2 separate regions of the Homo sapiens genome follow, and region 1 is linked to region 2. Evidence: fine-mapped expression QTL. A gene starts in region 2. The other region holds a variant in brackets. All regions are shown on one strand. Distances are between the middles of the regions.

The links.
Region 1: its variant is fine-mapped to the expression of ATRN in whole blood (TOPMed, PIP 0.93).

What each region holds. Positions count from the first base shown.
Region 1 is chr20:3,613,046-3,618,418 of GRCh38, forward strand. All of the region lies in intron 24 of ATRN (attractin), which reads left to right. Among named protein-coding and RNA genes, the nearest start is that of GFRA4, 48 kb to the right of the region's middle. The variant G/A (reference allele first, on the strand shown) is at 2,852.
Region 2 is chr20:3,468,220-3,473,592 of GRCh38, forward strand. It overlaps ATRN (attractin), which reads left to right and starts at 2,799. Exons shown (of 29, transcript NM_139321.3): 1 at 2,799-3,298. The coding sequence starts at 2,889. RefSeq lists an enhancer at 2,386-2,525 and a silencer at 2,626-3,185.

The DNA.
Region 1 (5,373 bases), 140 kb after region 2:
GTAATAATTTTAAGTTTCATAATCAAGGAGATGTTGATTTTCTTCCTGGTTTTCTGGTGCTCCTTATCTTTTCTGGATCACTAACTTAAATTAAGATCCACTTATGAATGCTGCATTCAGGAGCACTTGTGAAAATAAACGATGGCATGCCCACCATTTAGTTTGCCAAGCTTTCCTTGAAAACGCAGGTAAGTTCTATTGCAAACGTGTCTTTTTGCTGTTTGGTACAAATGACTGCACTATTCACTGTGACTAGGCCCGTGTCACCGTGTGTTCTCAGTCCTCGCATGAGAGCCTGGTTGACACTGGTTCTCTCTGCTTTGGGGACCGTATCTGGCTGTGCGCTATGTGGAGGGCTGAGCTCGTGTCTTCCTGGGTAAATACATCATGTTCTCAACAAGGGCTGCATGTTTCTTTATTGCTGTTTTTTCCCCAGAGACTTAGCTTTTCTAGGTGTGTAGCATGGCTCTTAAATACACACATTTAGCAACTGTGCAAATTCAGTAAAAATGGAGAGACTTATTTAAGGAAGACAGTAGGGAAATGTCTAAATAGTGCAGTGTAGGCCATTCAGTTAAATTTCAGTATGGCTTTCGATGCAGGCAAAGCCGTTTTGCCTTTGATTCTCATTTTTTAAATTAGATTTTAAAAATTGAGATTCTCCTTTTTTAAATGAGATTTTAAAAATTGAGATTCTCCTTTTTTAAATGAGATTTTAAAAATTGAGATTCTCCTTTTTTAAATGAGATTTTAAAAATTGAGATTCTCCTTTTTTAAATGAGATTTTAAAAATTGAGATTCTCATTTTTTAAATGAGATTTTAAAAATTGAGATTCTCATTTTTTTAAAGCAAAGTAACTGAGGAAATCTAATTCTCTAGTTGGAAATTTGTGTAAGCATTGGGGCTTTAAAAATGGTAATACTAAACTCAAGTTCCTTCACTCTGAACCAATCCCAGGATTCTTTTCCATAATTAGGAACAGATCAAAACCTATAACTGCTGAGGGAATTTGAAACTGACTATAAAAATCTTTGTAGATGCAGCTAAAAAACAAACAAAACCCACAGACTGAAAAGTCCTGTTTCTGGGAGGGTGGCGGGTGTGTTGGGGCCGGTTGTGCCTGTTTTTTGATTGGTTGTTCCTGTGGGTGAGCACCCTTCCCTCTGCCCCTGCTTTCTGAAAGCTATCCTAGTTGTTCTCCCCAGTAAGCCGGGGCTCAGCCGGCTTCAGCTATGTCCATAGTTTGGGGGCGTGGGCGGTAGGTATTCAAGATAGAAGATGGTTGGACAGAAAGTGTGTGAGGTGGGAAGGTGGAGTGGTGAGGCTCTGGCTCGTTCCCGACTCTGCAACAGAGGTTGTTACTGTAATGTGGAGCTAATATAGAAGTCTGCGTGCTGGGTGTTTCATCTACTGTTTTATGTAAGAGGCCAGTGTTCACAAGTAAAGGCAACACAGAATTGGTATTGAGAACTGGGCATTCATTTAGATTTTAGAGTTCTGTTTATGGGTGCTAACAGGATCGCTATACTGAGCAAGGGATGTGTGAAACTTTTGTTCACTTGGATGTGCTTTTTTTCTTATAACAGCTTTATTGAGACATCATTTACATACCATACAGTTCGCTCATTTAAAGTACACAATTCAGTGGTTTTCAGTGTATTCACAGAAGCGTGCAGCCACCCGTCACTACAGCCAATTTTAGAATATTTTCACCACTTCCAGAAGAAGCCCCTAGCAGTCAGTCCTCATTCCCCCCTCTTCCGGCAACCCCCAGTCTGTATTTCCTGTCTCTGTGGATTTGCCTATTCTGGACATTTTATATAAATTGAGTCACATGATATGCTCTCACTTAGCATACTGTTTTCAAGGTTCACCCGTGTTTAGTATGTTTCAGTACTTATTCCTTGTCATAGCTGAATAATCTTCCTTATATGTATATACCACGTTTTGTTTATCCATTTTTCTATCGATGGATGCTTGGGTGGTTTTCACTCTTTGGCTATTATGAATAGTGTCAGATATACTTTTAATGTTTATATTTATTGTATAATAACAGTGCATATCCGTACCTCCTGGTGTTAATTGTCTGTATCTTAAGAGTTTTAAGAATTATATGGTTGTGCTGTAATTCTAGCACTTAGGGAGGCCGAGGCGGGCAGATCGCTTTAGCTCAGGAGTTTGAGACCAGGCTGGGCAACATAGTAAAACCCTGTCTCTACTAAAGTACAAAAAATTAGCTGGGCGTGGTGAAGTGTTCCTGTAGTCCCAGCTACTTGCAAGGCTGAGGCACAAGAATCACTTGAACCCAGGAGGCAGATGTTGCAGCGAGCCAAGATTGCACCACTGTACTGCAGCCTGAGCGACAGAGCAAGACTCCTGTCTCCAAAAAAAAAAAAAATTTTTCTTTATGATGAAACCCACAAGGCTGTACAAGAACCTTAAATATAGTTTGAAACAAAGAAAGACACATGCTTTTAAGTACAGTTTAATTCTTTTCTTTTTTCTTTTTTCTTTTTTTTTTTTTTTGGAGACAGAGTCTCACTCTGTCGCCCAGGCTGGAGTACAGTGGTGCAATCTTGGCTCGCTGCAACATCTGCCTCCTGGGTTCAAGTGATTCTCGTGCCTCAGCCTTGCGAGTAGCTGGGACTACAGGAACACTTCACCACGCCCAGCTAATTTTTTGTATTTTAGTAGAGACAGGGTTTTACCATGTTGCCCCCATCATTCTCAGCAAACTATCGCAAGGACAAAAAACTGAACACCGCTTGTTCTCATTCATAGGTGCAAACTGAACAATGAGGACGCATGGACACAGGAAGGGGAACATCACACACCAGGGCCTGTTGTGGG[G/A]TGGGGGGAAGGGGAAGGGATAGCATTAGGGGATATACCTAATGTTAAATGACGAGTTAATGGGTGCAGCACACCAACATGGCATATGTATACATATGTAACAAACCTGCATGTTGTGCACATGTACCCTAAAACTTAAAGTATAATTAAAAAAAAAAAAAAGAAAAATGTGTTATTCCTTTGTCTCGAAAGTCCCCTGCTTTTCAGCTTTCGCTTTGGTTGTCTCTTGTCAGCTCTTTAATGCTATTGTTCCCTTGGGTTTCATCTGGACTCTTTTTCCCTGGGCAATCTCATCCACACCATCTGGGAACATTGCCTTTGGCTGGACAGGTAAATCTTTGTCTCTAGCAGACTTCTCTCCTGTGATCTCCAGAGCCAGGAACCCACTAGACTTCCTTAAAATTCATTCAGCCAGCAGACTTTCTGGCCCAGAGCAGCAGCTGTGAGTGGACAGCAGGCACCTCGTTAGAAGCTCGGTGTTGGAGGTGTGCCCATGCATTCCTGGGAGCCATGAGAGGGGAGGGGAGTGCCCTGTGTCACCTGAGTCCAAGTTAAGAGAGATCACACCAGAGCTGATTCCTAAGGAGCATGGGGGCGGGGGAAGGGGGTGTTCGTGGTGGGGAAAGGAAATGACCAGCCCTTTCAGGAACTACCAGGAGTTTAGCAGAGCTGGTGACAGTGCTATGAGCAAGAAGGTGGAGAGCTGGGGAGGGCCATTATGAAGAGACTGGAGATTGCAGGCTGTGAACTTGAGTCCTGATGTGACTGGGAATTGTTGAGATGTTTTAGGCCGAAAAGTCACCGACGATCAGTGTTTAGAAAGACCCCACTGGCAGCAGTTGGGAGTGTGGATTGGAAGGAGCCAGGCCTAAGTCCTGGGAGGACTTAGGAGGTCCAGGAGTCCAGGGAGTCCAGGTGGAATTCTTGTGTAGAAACCCAGGGAAGGGGACCATCTGATGACACACATCCCATAGCAACTTCCTTTCCTCCTCTGCACCTCCACAGCAGAGTGTCTGTTTCCACTATACGAAGATTTCTTAATGGCAAGGATCGCATTTTTATCCCTCAGTGTCCTCAGTGTCATGTGCTAATCAGTTGGAGATACTCCCTAAATGTATGCCAGATGAGTATATAGTTGTTAGTATAAGGGCTTTACGGTAGGTATCAGAACTTTTTCTTTTTTACAACTTTTATAACTTTTATAAAGGAGCCGACACCTTTTTCTGATATTGTCAGAACAATTGCTGACCAGTGCTATGGGCTGGCTGAGGTTGGCAACCAAGAATCTGTTATCTCAGTCTACACAGCGTGGAGTTAGAAGATTGGATTGTTGTTGGTTAGAATTTTGTCCAGAGAGTTAGAAGATAGAAGAAAAGGGAGGGCTGAGGACATAAACATCCAAATTTTACAAAGAAGAAAGTTCAGTGCTCCTGTCAATATTGAAATAGTTAAGAGGGAAATGATTGGGTCTGGGGAATGCTTCAAAATAATATGATCATAGGGAAAGTAAGTGTAGTGTGGATGAAACAAGGTTGGCCTTGAGCTGATAATTTACTAAAGCAGGATGATGAGCGTGTGAGGTTCATTATAGTGCTCTTTCTACTTTTTAAAAAGCTTAAGATTTTCCAAAATGAAAAAGAAGCTGAGCATGGTAGCTCATGTCTGTAATCCCAGCACTTTGAGAGCCTGAGACGGAAGGATCACTTGAAGCCAGGAGTTCGAGACCAGCCTGGGCAATATAGTGAGACCCCCATCCCTACTAAAAAAGAAAAAAAATTACACAATGAAAAGAATAATACAGGTGGTAGAAGAAGAAATAAAGGTATGAGTATATGATTTGGCCTCCTACAGACAGCTACAGGAGCATGCCTCTGCTGGGCGGGCCTGGAGCATAGTGCACCCTGGAGCTGAAGTTCTGTTCGCCTTTACAGGAAGTACACAGCATTGTACGGGGGTTTTACCAGTTAACAGTGGACAGTCTCTAGAACACTCAGGGGTCAGGGGCAAAACTCCCTCTCCCTCAAACCAGCCCACCTGTCTTGGTGAGAATGGAAAACGGAGCTTCCCAGCAAGCCTCCTGCCTTCACCCCGACGCACAGGTGCATCAGGGTCTGAGGGCTCCTCCCTGTGGGGCCTGGGAAGCCGCCCTTCAGTGGGCTATGGCTGCATTGTCTTCTGATCTTGTAGCTGTGTGTGGGTAACAGGCACATCGTCTCCCCATATCCCAGAGAGTCATGTCCACTTCCTATCTGTGGTGGCATCTTTCCATCACTGTCACCCTCAGGATAATGGCACAGGAACTAACAGAGGCACTAAGAGCAGTGATATATACTGGAGGGAGGGGCGGGGCTGATGACCAAAATCACCTTCTGTTTCAGTAAGAGGTTGGTTAAAGTGATGCCTAAAATGGATAGATCAGGAAATAACAATAAAAACATTAATGATAAAAAGGCAACTGCCAGAAGAACTGAAAAGTAACCTAGTTCAAGGTGGGGGTCCCTGGAGAGAAGCCTTCAGAAGAG
Region 2 (5,373 bases):
CCCCTGCCCCAGCCTCCCAAGTAGCTGGGACTACACATGCACGCCACCACATCTGACTAATTTTTTAAAAAATTTTTTGTAGAGACAAGGTCTCACTATGTTGTCCAGGCTGGTCTCAAACTCCTGGCCTCAGGTGATCCTCCCACCTTGGCCTCCCAAAGCACTGGGATTACAGGCATGAGCCACTGCACCCAGCGTGTTTGTTTTTTAAGGACAAAATAATTTGAGCATGTTTGAAAGCTAAGGAAAAAGAACCAGAGAAGAGAGTAGATTAAGGAAGTAAGAAAGAATGTTTGCTGCAGCAAGATTCTAAGGCTTCAGAGTAGCAATATCTAGTCTAGGGATTGCTGTTCTTCAGATGCACACCTTTTCTGTTATCCCTGAATGTTGGTAAAATCATGTGAAACTTCACAGTGTGGGTTCAGTCTTGCTGTGGGGAGGGAAGGGAAGGAAAGGGCTGGTTCACTTCTGGCCTGGAAGATTAGGGGGAGCAATGTCTCCTACAGCTAGGGCATGGCCTATGCCAGCCTCCCCATCTGATGGGGTCCTGCCAGAGGGTAGGGCCATGTCTTCAATTTCAAAATCCTACATGGCAAAAACATAACCTGCAAACCAGAATGTCAGTGCTAGGGCCTAGGCCGAACAATAGTTTTCCTGTAGGAATGGGGAGTATGTGTGGATGTAGAGCTGGGGGTAAGGCTTTTGTGCAATTCAGCTTCACCAGGCTTGAAGAAGATGCAGTGAGGACAGTCAGGACCTGAGTATGAGAGTGGGACCTGGGTATGAGTGTGGAAATCCATCTTAGAACCTTAAAATTCCATACTCTGAGGTAAAGCTGAGAGGCTCCACAGGTCTATGAGGGTTTTTCTTTGTTTCCCAGGGACTGTAAGGTGCCCAGATTCTGAGGTAGGTGCCATAGGAATATTCCTCATAGCACAAGCATTATGTCGGACAATGTTCTGCTTATCTATTACTGAGTAACAAACCTCTCTAAAACTTAGAGGCTTAAAATAACATAAATCATAATTTATGAAAAATTATAAATAATTCATCACTTAAGGGTTAAATGATAAATGAGTTATTTCTTAGGATTTTGGATAAGTCACAGTTAGGAAAGACCTGTTACTGTTGTAGGTAACATGGAACAGCCCAGACGGTTGGAATAACCCAACCCAGATAGCTTCTTCACTCAATGACTGATCCCTTAGCTAGGATGGCTCCACCAGCTGAGCGGCCCAGCTCTCCCTCTCCAAGTCCAAGTGGTCTCTGCACATGGTTTCTCTCCAGCAAGGTGGCTAACGGGGTGCAGCTCATGACCACCAACAGCTCAAAATCAAGGCTGCCAGGTCTTTTTTTTTTTTTGAGACAGAGTCTCGCTCTGTCCCCCAGGCTGGAGTGCAGTGGCGCGATCACGACTCTCTGCAACCTCTGCCTCCTGGATTCAAGCGACTCTCCTGAGTAGCTGGGATTACAGGTGTGTGCCACCACGCCCGGCTAATTTTTGTATTTTTTGTAGAGACAGGGTTTCACCACGTCGATCAGGGTGGTCTCGAACTTCTGACCTCGTGATCTGCCCGCCTCGGCCTCCCAAGGTGCTGGGATTACAGACGTGAGCCACCGTGCCCGGCCAAGGCTGCCAGGTCTTTTTTAAGCTCAGAGCTAGAAACAAGACATTGCTACTCCTACCAACTTCTTCTATTGGTGAAATTGAGTCATGGTTTCTCATGGTCTCAATCATGACCCAGCCCAGATTCCAGGGTCAAGGACCATAAAAGGCTACATTGATGGAAGACATGTCTCATTGAGGGACACCAGAGTAACAACTACCAGACAAGAAGGGGCAGGTCTGTGTGAGCGCCATTTCCTAATTCTATATTGCCCACTCTTCAGAGAAGATGGTTGGAGGGCAAATTGTGGGGAGCAAGGTAACTCCAAACTTTTACAGAATTAAAGGTAGGGGGTCTGGTCAGCTACAGTCCATCTGTTATCAAGAGGCCTGGCTGTGTGTCTTCATTCAGTTTATTAGGCATTTACTGAGCACAGCCTACATGCCAGGTTCTTCATTTTTTGACACAGGGTCTTGTGTTGCCCAGGCTGGAGTGCAGTGCTGCGACTGCGGCTCACTGCAGCCTTGACCTCTCCAGACTCAAGCGATCCTCCTGCCTCAGCCTCTGGAGTAGCTGGGGATACAGGCGCGCACCACCATGCTCGGCTAATTTTTGTATTTTTAGTAGAGACAGTGTCTCACCCTGTTGGCCAGGCTGGTCTCGGATCCCAGAGATCAAGTGATCCGCCTGCCTCAGTTTCCCAAAGTGCTGGGATTACAGGCGTAAGCCTCCGCGCCCGGCCTATGCCAGGTTCTACATGTGTTCTTTCTTGACTCTTGTGTTACAGAGGCTCGAATGAAGCCTGGCTTCTACAGTACCGCACCCAGCACCTCGCTGCGATGCAGCCTCCTGTACCCTTTCCGTCCGGCAGCTGGAGTTAGGGCAGAGTGCCGGGTCTCTAGGAGGGCAACACTCAACGCAGTCGGCTCCTAGGCATCCAGTGGGGCTGCAACCCCGCCGCCGGGGACGAAAGGCGAAGGGGGAAAACTAGAGCTTTCGCCGGCCGGGACAGCGCAGCCGGGTTTCAGCTCGTTCTACGGTCCACGTCAGAAGATCGCCTCCGGCGCCGCGGACGCCGGAGACCACTGTCTGCGCCCCCGCACGCACGCACCCACGTACTCGCGCACGCGCGCGCCGGCCCCGCCCACCGCCCCGCTGTGGCCCCTTTGGACCGCACGAGCCACCGTCCGCACAGCCCCGCCCCGCACGGCCAGGCGAAGCGGAGCCGGCCGTGCGGTGTGTGTGTATGTGTTCGCGGGGCGCCGTCTCAGCCCCGGGAAGATGGTGGCTGCAGCGGCGGCAACTGAGGCAAGGCTGAGGAGGAGGACGGCGGCGACGGCAGCGCTCGCGGGCAGGAGCGGCGGGCCGCACTGGGACTGGGACGTGACCAGGGCTGGGAGGCCGGGGCTGGGGGCCGGGCTGCGCCTCCCGCGGCTGCTGTCTCCACCGCTGCGGCCACGGCTGCTGCTGCTGCTGTTGTTGCTCTCGCCGCCGCTGCTGCTGCTGCTGCTGCCCTGTGAGGCCGAGGCCGCGGCGGCGGCGGCGGCGGTGTCGGGCTCAGCCGCAGCCGAGGCCAAGGAATGTGACCGGCCCTGTGTCAACGGCGGTCGCTGCAACCCTGGCACCGGCCAGTGCGTCTGCCCCGCCGGCTGGGTGGGCGAGCAATGCCAGCACTGCGGGGGCCGCTTCAGGTGAGTGGCGGGTGGTGTCGGAGGGTCGGGTCCAACCAGAGGCTGGGGCTGAGGGGCGTTCGAGACGGCTCCAGGTCAGAGGGAGATGCTGGACAGAAAGTGGAGAGGGTAGGGCCGCCCTATGGGGTTTGAGGGCCATTTGCTTCCGGGGAGATCATCGTCTCTGGCCTGGGGTCTTTCTCTGTTGGAAGGTGAAAAGGTGTGGGGCAAGGGTGGGGGCACCCCGACGGTATTTGGGTGCTTAGGTTAGTTAGATGGGAAGAATGCTGAGGGACCCAAAGAGCATCAAAGCCGATCGCTCTAAAACTCGGCGTGTTTCAGCTAAACGAGGTATCCAAGGAAAGGTGGTCGAGCCAGGTTTGCTTGAACACTTCCTTTTAACATCCACATGTGCCCTAGGACCCGATGAGTTCCCCGATGCACTGGAGATGTGGGGTGCTCTGAAGAAACAGGGCCCTGGAAATGCTTTGTTGGCTGGAGATAAAAGGGAAAGGGTAGCATTGTAAGATATTAGGGATAGAAGGACCAGTGGTCCTTCTAAAGGAAAGTGAGGAAACTAGCCTTTTGGCAAAAGCTCCCTGGAGGTGGCAAATTGGAATAGGGTCTGTGGTGAAGAGGGAATGGAAGGAGATTCCTATTTGCCTTGGTTTCTGGACAATATGAAGTTCTGAATTGGCTTAGTTTGGGGCAGTTCCTCTTGGAGAAATCAATAAATTAATTAGCAGTTATCGTTATTTGCTTCAGTTGTGCAATGATTTTCCAGATAATACAGACAGATTAGCCAGACTTTGGCCTTGTCCACAGGGAGTTTGGAATATAGCAAGAGAAAGATAATGTGCGCACATAACCCTAGTCATAAGGGTTACAGAGTCATTCACGCCTTTGACAGGTATTTAGCTTACTGAACACATGTCTGATGTGGGGGAGTGGGGAAATGTGAACAAGACAGACAGGGCCTCTGCTCTCATTGACCTTAACATTCTAGTGGGAGCAACAGGCACTTAACAAGTAAATAAATGAGAGAAATAAACATGGTAATTTCAGGTAATGGTAAATGCTATCAAGAAAATAAAAACAGCGTGGTCTGATAGAGAATTATAACCGGTGGTGACTCTTGGAGAGGGTTCTCATTTGAAATGACATTTGATCTGAGACCTGAATGAGGCAACAGGGAACTTGTGGGAATTCAGGGATGGAGAGGTTGTGGCTAGCTGGAGGGATGCAAGGAGGACTTTGAGGAGGCGGTAACATTGGATTTGAGCATGTAAGGTTAAGTAGGATTTGGAAATGTGGAGCTGGAAAAAAATTACAGATGGAAAGAAGGGTGCAAACAAAGTTGTGGAGGCTGGAAAGTAAAGTTTTGCTGCTGCCTATGTGGAAGAGAGTTGTGAGAGAGGAGTTTGGAATAGCAAAATTGTAGACTTAGGTAATATTAGGTCTTCTGAGGAACTCAGAGAACGTTGAGCAGATGAGCTCTTTAGTTTTATGGATGGAGAAACCAAGTTACTTCAGGACCACTGATGCAGTGAAGCTGCTTTTGTAACTTAGGGTGTTCTGATTTATGAATTCCATTAACCTACATGTATTTGTTGAGGGCTCCTATGTTTTAGGTTGTGAGATACAGTGGTATACAAGACAGGCACAGTCCTGCTCTTACGGAGCTCACATTTCAGCTTGGGAGTAAAAAAATCCAACAAAAATTTTATTGTAATTTTGTTTAAGGCTGTGGAGGTAAAGAGCAGGAGACAAACAGAGGACTTGACTTAGTCTAGGGGTAAGGTAAGTCACTGAGGAAGCGATGTGAAGTCTGAGGGGTGAGATGGTACTACCTGCGTGAGGGGTGGGGTGCTGAGGGGCCAGCAGGTACAGAGGCTTGGGGTTGAAGCGGATGGAAGGCCAGGTGGCAGGAGCAGAGAGAGCAAAGGGGAGCTTGGCAAGACTGGAGAGAAAGGCGGGAAGCCAGGCCAAGTGGAGATCTGTGGGTTGGATTGAGAATTTTGACCTTTAGCCCAAGAGCTGTGAAATGGCGTAGTTCACGCCTATTTTCATGACATTATAGGCTTTTAGATTGGAGC